Linked DNA regions of Homo sapiens. The protein of the gene in region 2 interacts with the protein of the main gene of each other region in a pairwise test. Each region holds a gene or a part of one and is shown on either strand. Other genes may lie near its edges.

Region 1 (3,826 bases), on a different chromosome or scaffold from region 2:
TTATCCAAAGTATCATTGTTATTAGGGAATGTTTTAGTATGTTTTCTTCATTCAAAGCAAGCAATCTTTTCATAAAATTATATACTCATGAAACAGACTGCTCACCTTCACAGATTTTGTCACCAAACTGCAAATGAAATCCATGAATCCAAGATCTTTGTAGCAGTGGGTAATCAAAGTTCCTTTAGCTAACGGCACTCCAGATTGCTGTTATTGATGGAAAGAACAAACTACTAGCAACATTCATCAACTGATCCTTATTTTAAAGCATTTACCCTAGTAATGTCTTCATACTGCTACAATTCATAAATAAAAAATATAATCTCTCCTTATAACTGGTGGTGGTGATGAAATTAACACATAAAATCATGTAAACTTAGAAATTCAAAAGAGAAGGTCAGCAATGAGGGCAGAGGTATTTAGTGAAAGATGTTTGCTTATCGTATGTCACATTTTGAAAGGTATTTATCAAAATCTGGATTCTCTAGATTCTTAGTAACTTTACTGGTTCGATTTGGTTTCTGAGCCACTATGATACGCTTCTGTCATTGCTTTACAATAACACTAAGAACAGAAATAGACTAGGAAACTGCACAACTTATACCACTATTCCCACCATCTAGCGTTGTACATGGTATGTAATAGATGCTCCATAAATACTGATTAAATAAATGAAAGGAGAATTTTAAGTGAACTTTAGTAGGTGAGTGGAGTTTGGCTACCTGCAATAAGAGTGCCTAGGGAGCAGCAAGATCCAAGGTAGATTAGAGGAAGAATAATTTTGATGCTATGGGCAGAGTGAATGTTGGGAAGAGCAGTTAATGAGCTTTATCAAAGGCTGGCCTTCTCCAACATTCTTTAGTTCAAGTGCTTTACGTTCAGATTCTTAAATTCTCCTTCTAATTAAAAAGTCCTCATTACTCCTATCTTACTAATTCTGAACACTGACCCCACTACCATCATCAGCCTAATGTGCACAGCCTCGTGATCTGTTAGCTTACCTTCATCCCCATTTGCCTCCCCCCCTACCCTGGATCACCATGCCCAACATGCAGTCAAGTTCCTGCTAACAACATACATCTACTTTCCTCCACCATATGTTGCAAACAAAGTGCTAACGGTTAGTCAGTTGGTTTTCCTACAATAGCATGCTGTCTTTTCTTACCCAGACCCTTCCTGTTATACAAGCATCCTTTTCTTAGTCTGTAAATTAACTCCTAGCATCTTCCTCACAACTTTAGTAAATTCTTGAAACCCCTGAAGTTATCCTTATCCTTTTAATTTTTGTAAGTATTTTCTGCCTTTCTTCACCTTCAACTTTTTTTTAAGTTCTCAGTTCCAAATTTAAAATGCCAAACGGCATGGTACGATACAAAGGCACAGACTCTGGAATCAGATTTGGGTTCAAATCTCAACTCTGCCACTTTATAGTTATGTGAACTTTGGCAAGTAGCCTGTCCTCATCTGTAAAAATGAAGTTTTGTGATAATCCAAGATAATATAATGTACATTGCCTAGCCTGATGTCAGATACTAAATAAAAGCTAAATATTATTAACATTAATAATAGTTTCAATTGGAAGTCAGGAAATAAAAATGATGGAGGTAGTTATCTGGACTATCCCCAGGAGCAATGACTTATTTTTTCCTAATTAAATCCCTTAATCAAGATCTGTAATGATTACAGACATATGTCATTCAGCAATTATACCTTAACTGGCAACAACCAGAACCATCTGTGCTTTGAATTATTAATTTTTAGAAGCTGTATGACTCGCACAAATATTCTTGTCTCGTGGTATGGCAGAACACAAGCAATGAGGCTATCTTGATTATAGAGATGTATATGGAACCTGGGGAAAAAAAGCAAACAGTCCAACTGAACACAAAACTTAATAATAAGCACCTATTTCCTCACATGCCCAAACTGTATTATTAATAAGCTAAAACAACCTAGAACGAGTAGCAGTAAAAATCACAAAATTATAAGATACAGAGCATTTAAAAAGTCCCCAATTTTGCATTCACATATCCCTCAACATGGTCCAGCCAATTCCTATGCAATATCTTTGAATATTCTACATCAAAATATACATCCCATTAACTTTCTCTCAGCTTTACAATTTTTATTTAATTTTTTGAATAGAGTCTTGCTCTGCCACTCAGGCTGGAGTGCAGTGGCACGATCACGGGTCACTGCAGCCTCAACCTCCCAGGCTCAAATGATCCTCCCACCTAGGTCTCCTGAGTAGCTGGGACCACAGGGGAGCACCATCACAGCTGGCTAATTTTTTATTTCTGTGTAGAGACTAGGTCTCCCTGTGTTGCCCAGGCTGGTCTGTCAACATTTTTTTTTTTTTTTTTTTTTTTTTTTTTGAGAGGGAGTCTTGCTGTTGCCCAGGCTGGAGTGCAGTGGCACAATCTCGGCTCACTGCAACCTCCACCTCCAAGTTTAAAAGATTCTCCTGCCTCCGCCTCCCAAGTAGCTGGGACTACAAACTCATACCACCATGCCCAGCTAATTTTTTTTTTTTACTTTAGTAGAGATGGGGTTTCACCATGTTGCCCAGGCTGGTCTCCAACTCCTGAGCTCAGGCAATCTACCTGCCTCAGCCTCCCAAAGTGCTAGGACTACAGGTGTGAGCCACCATGCCTGGCTAAGATGTTTTTTCTAATTCTGCCAACTGATCCCTCTTCTGTGAAAACTCTCCTATCCTTTTACATCGTGTACTTTTTTTAAACAGTACCATACATTGCCTTTTATTAGATTTTTTTTTTTTTCCAGAGTCTACTTGGTCACCCAGGCTGGAGTGCAGTGGTGTGATCTCAGCTCACTGCAACCTTCGCCTCCCAAGTTCAAGCGATTCTCATGCCCTAGCCTCCCAAGTAGCTGGAATTACAGGTGCACAGCACCACACCCAGCTAATTTTTTTTTGTATTTCTAGTAGAGACAGGGATTCACCATGTTGGTCAGGCTCGTCTCAAACTCCTGATCTCAAGTGACTGGCCTGCCTCAGCCTCTCAAAGTGCTGGGATTACAGGCGTGAGCCACTGAACCCAGCCTCTTAGTTTGACATACGGTTTTAGCGGTTACTTTTTCCATGAAGCTTTCTTCAACTATTCCAGGCAGAACTATATCCACAAAACTCTGCTTAATCCTTTATTATGGCATTTATTTCAAAACAGTAATCAACGGCAACCTACTTATCTATGTACTGAACTTAGTATTTGCTGAATAAATAAGTTATCTGAAGACATAAAATGAAAAATCAAATGCAAAAAGTATTCCTTACATTAATGATCTATTTGGGGGTAAAGTTAGGTGCTAGAAAACAGATGGAAATATTACAGACTTTTAAATATTCTTTGTCTGATTGCCCTAATGTTCTGACAATCAGAAGACCCAAGTTAAAATCATGTTTTCTTGATGACTCACTTGCTTCTTGAAAAAAAATTAGTTTATCCCCACGTCTCCATTTTTTGTTTTTTTTTTTTGATACGGCGTCTCCCTGTTACCCAGGCTGGAGTGCAGTGGCGTGATCTCAGCTCACTGCAAAATCTGTCTCCTGGATTCAAGCAATTCTCCTGCCTCAGCCTCCCAAGTAGCTAGAATTACAAGTGCTCGCCACTGCGCCCAGCTAATTTTTGTATTTTTCACACAGACAGGTTTTACCATGCTGGCCAGGCTGGCCTTGAAGCCATGTCTCCAATTAATGGAATAGAAATCTACTTTTAAAACATGTAAGTTGGACTGGATGTGGTGGCTCATGCCTGTAACCCCAGCACTTTGGGAGGCCGACTCGGCAGGAGGATCGCTTGAGGCCAGG
Region 2 (3,826 bases):
AGAATGGCGTGAATCTAGGAGGTGGAGCTTGCAGTGAGCAGAGATCGTGCCACTGCACTCCAGCCTGGGCAACAGAGAGAGACTCTGTCTCAAATAAATAAATAAATAAATAAAAATAAAGAAAGAAAATACTCTACCAAGATAAGTTTATCACCACCAATGTCTGGATGAAGACCTAAAAGTCATGTTTATCTTAATTGTGAATGACTTAATTCTCAAAAGAATAACTAATACTTTAGATGATATAACCAGGAACCAAAAATGTGGTCTGAAATGAAGAGCTAGTACCAGTAAGAGGAAAATTAATACAAACTAGCATAAAGTCCTATATTCATGTTTGAATAATACATGCAAGTAAAAGATGAGGAAATATGGCTTAGGAATAATTTGTATTTTAAAAGTCTAGGAAGGTTTTCATTACCTTACCTAAAGATGACATATCAAAAAACCCATTTTAAGATTAAGCTGAATGAATACAAGAACATTATTCAGACAAAGGGCTACGAGAAATAAAGTAGTATAAAGGAGCAGAGATTCCAAAATGATAACAGTCAAATACTGACTCCCAAGGACAAGAGAAAGAGAAAATTCTAGTGCCAGAAATCACACAGGCTCACATACACAAAACAGGGCACAAGTTTCAGGGACCTAGAAAAACACAGAAAAAGATGTACATGCTAATTTTCAACACTCTTTAAAATGAGCAAGGAGAAAAACCAGAGTTTTTATTTCAGTTTTGTTCTCTTCTTCTCCAGCAGGTTTTATTCTCAAAGGTAACAGCATTTTGGAAAAATTATAAATAAAACCAGAATATAGAAAAATATTTCTTAATTCCTTGAAGAAAAATACAAGTTTCTTGAAATGACTGCTTATGTCTTATCTATGTACTTTAATTCACGTTGGTTGCCCCTGCCCAGAATGTCTTTTGGAACAACTGGCATATTCACAATGCCACCTCTCCAGCAGTCCTCTCACTACAAGCCCAGGACCTTTTCTAACTTCTTCCCCATGGAGCAGCTGACATGTGAGAGGTCACAATGCCAACACGTTCTCTGCACTTTTAAACAAAAATAAGCTCTCCGGTCTCTAAAATACCACAGCACTACTATTTCTTCTATAATACTTATGACATTCCACTTGGTAATTCAATTATCTGTAAGTTTCATCTCTTGTACCAGATTATAAGGTTTTGGTGAACCAAAAACCCTCTTATCCTGGTAGATACCAAAACAGGTGTACTTCAAAGGAGAAAAGATGAGAAAAGAAATGGGGAAGGGGAGTAGAAGAGGGGAAGAAATAGAAGGTCCAGCAATAGCGGAGGACAGCGATTGCAGAGCTACCTGGGGTGGAGGTGGGGGATTAAATTTGGGGTCTATCTTTTGGCTTCAAATGTCCAAAAGACATTCAAATGGATTTGAAATGTCCCCTGCGATTCTTGGGAATTCAGCCTTAGGTTACTATGAATTCAAAATAAGAAACATCAACTTTAACTACTACGAAGGTCTAACTCTCCTTCTTCAGCAGTAGGGAAAGGAAAAAGGATTATGGAAATGACAAAGATTTTAGAAAGCAGCCCTATACCTTTATCCATAAGAAAAACACACATTTTCAAAAGTTCTAAAACAGGTGGTAAAACCAAAAAAATGAATTATTACACTAAGTGTAAGATTATAAGATTACATCAATGGATTTTGCTTAAATCCTTGAAACAGCTGGGGAAAAAAGTTTCTTGAATTTTGCTGTGATTCTTCTTCCCTGAATTAAAATAATCTCTCATATCTAAGTGCCATATTTTCTCCTAACACATAAACACTTACCATCCTCCTCAGGCAACTCCTCTGGACTAAGTTCTACCAATTCAAAGCCATGTTTGATGCACCATTCTTGAGCTTTTTGTCGGTTTATACCTAAAATAATATGCAAAAGAATCTTCATAAGTAAAAAGAAAATAAAACATGACTATTCCTGCAATATTCTTCACAAATCTCAATGTGTTTCCCTTAATGTCAATGTTATTCTAAAGGCATCTAAAATAATAAAAAGAAAATGACTTCTCAGCCCCGAAGTATCCATTCTTAAAAAAAAAGTAAGTATTACAAGATTCCAAAGAAAAATAGCTGAAAATATTTTCATAAAGCCATAAAGTCACATGGGATGTATGTCCTAAGTTAAAGAAACAGATGTACTCTGTTTATCAAGGAATGGCAAATGCATGTACCAACTACTGTCCCATCCACAGGCCTTACCATCTTCAGACACTCTATCGCAGACCAAGATCATCACCTCAGGTAACCATGCTTTTGCCAGTGGAAGCCATGAGGAGACACTATCAAGGCCCGATTTCTAGAGGGAACAAAAAATATAAACAAACAAAAACAGAAAAGAGATAGTCAGACAAAATGTAATGGGAAAAAAAGAAGGCATGCAATAATTTCTTATTCAAGCCTTCATAGAAAACAAAGTCTTACTTGTGTGCTGTCAAAGTAAACCACAAATGCTTGGACAGATTCTGCAATCTCTGCAGTAACAAGAAATTTGTTTGGCACCACACATAGATTGATGTCTGCTGAATAGTATTTATTATCAATGGTCCAGGGATAAAATCTCACAGCATCATTGGAAGTCACTTCCACAATAAGATCTTCTGTTCCAAGGATATCTAAAAATAAATGACAACATTACCATGTAAAGTGCAAAACCAATATACATTGGTTGATTTTCTCAGTCAGATACCAGATAAAGCTGGTACTTTTGCTGTTTCCTTTTATGTGAGGATTTCAAAGGACCCTGCATTTATTAGCTTTAATCCTATATTCTCTGATCATCTGATTATAAAAGTTATGGTGATATAATTTAAGTCATTGACATTTTCTCTTTAAGAACACAAAAATCATTGTGAACTAGATTAGACAGTAGTAAAGGAAAAAACAGTCATATAACCAAATATCCAGAAAAGAGCAAGTAGAAGACAAAGAATGACAGCTCTATTTATTGTATTGCTTAAGTACTTCATAGGAGGTAGACAATAACAATCTTCTAGAATTTGTAACTATTTTGTACTTATTGCAAACTAAAAGGAAGATAGGATTAAGGCTAAACCATTAATAAAATAGAAGAGCTACATATATTTCTTGGACTGAATGCTTAGACATTAATTCAGCTAATGAAATAAAAGAATGGATACTGATAAATGACCCCAATCCTATTTATATTCAGCCTTGTTCACATTCTTTGAAAGCCAACCTAAATTCTTGTTTGATCAAGACACTTCCGATAAATTTTAAATGTGTAATAGCCAAGCAAATTACTATAAATGTTTTAGATTATAACTGAATCTTTTGGAAATCTATGTGCAGCATGTATATAACAGGAAATCCCCACAGTAAGAGACAAGTCAATGGTGAACAAATGAATATAGACATGGTTATGGAGCCATGGAAGCATTTTGCTTCCATTATGTTATACAGTATTTACAACTGGAAGAGAAGTTAGAAGTTGTTCCAACCTAAACTCCCGTCTCTCACACCCATACCCATAACCTCCACTTTATACAAATGTGGAAAATCAGCTTATAGAAGTAAAATGACATGCCATTAATTGACTTATCAGAAGAATATAATGAAAAACAGTCACAAACTCCTCGTCAATGCATACTAAGATGAACACGTATTAATGAAATGTGCCTCAAACTCATAATTAGCAAGACACTGAAAACTAGAAATTAAATTTTAACTCCCAGAGCTAACATTATATATTTGAAAAGTTGCCATCATTTTTGCTCAACATAAAGTTATGGGGAAATTATTTAGTCCAAAAGACTGCTAGG

Evidence for each region.
Region 1: the proteins of AAGAB (region 2) and HEATR1 interact in a two-hybrid assay, tested with the Homo sapiens proteins (one large-scale study listed by BioGRID).

The regions. Positions count from the first base shown.
Region 1 is NC_000001.11:236,597,773-236,601,598, forward strand, and holds part of HEATR1 (HEAT repeat-containing protein 1), read right to left. Parts: intron 1,853-3,826; coding exon 1,711-1,852; intron 208-1,710; coding exon 106-207; intron 1-105. UniProt on the Homo sapiens protein: Ribosome biogenesis factor; required for recruitment of Myc to nucleoli. Involved in nucleolar processing of pre-18S ribosomal RNA. Required for optimal pre-ribosomal RNA transcription by RNA polymerase I.
Region 2 is NC_000015.10:67,234,162-67,237,987, forward strand, and holds part of AAGAB (alpha- and gamma-adaptin-binding protein p34), read right to left. Parts: intron 2,660-3,826; coding exon 2,469-2,659; intron 2,344-2,468; coding exon 2,247-2,343; intron 1,908-2,246; coding exon 1,818-1,907; intron 1-1,817. UniProt on the Homo sapiens protein: May be involved in endocytic recycling of growth factor receptors such as EGFR.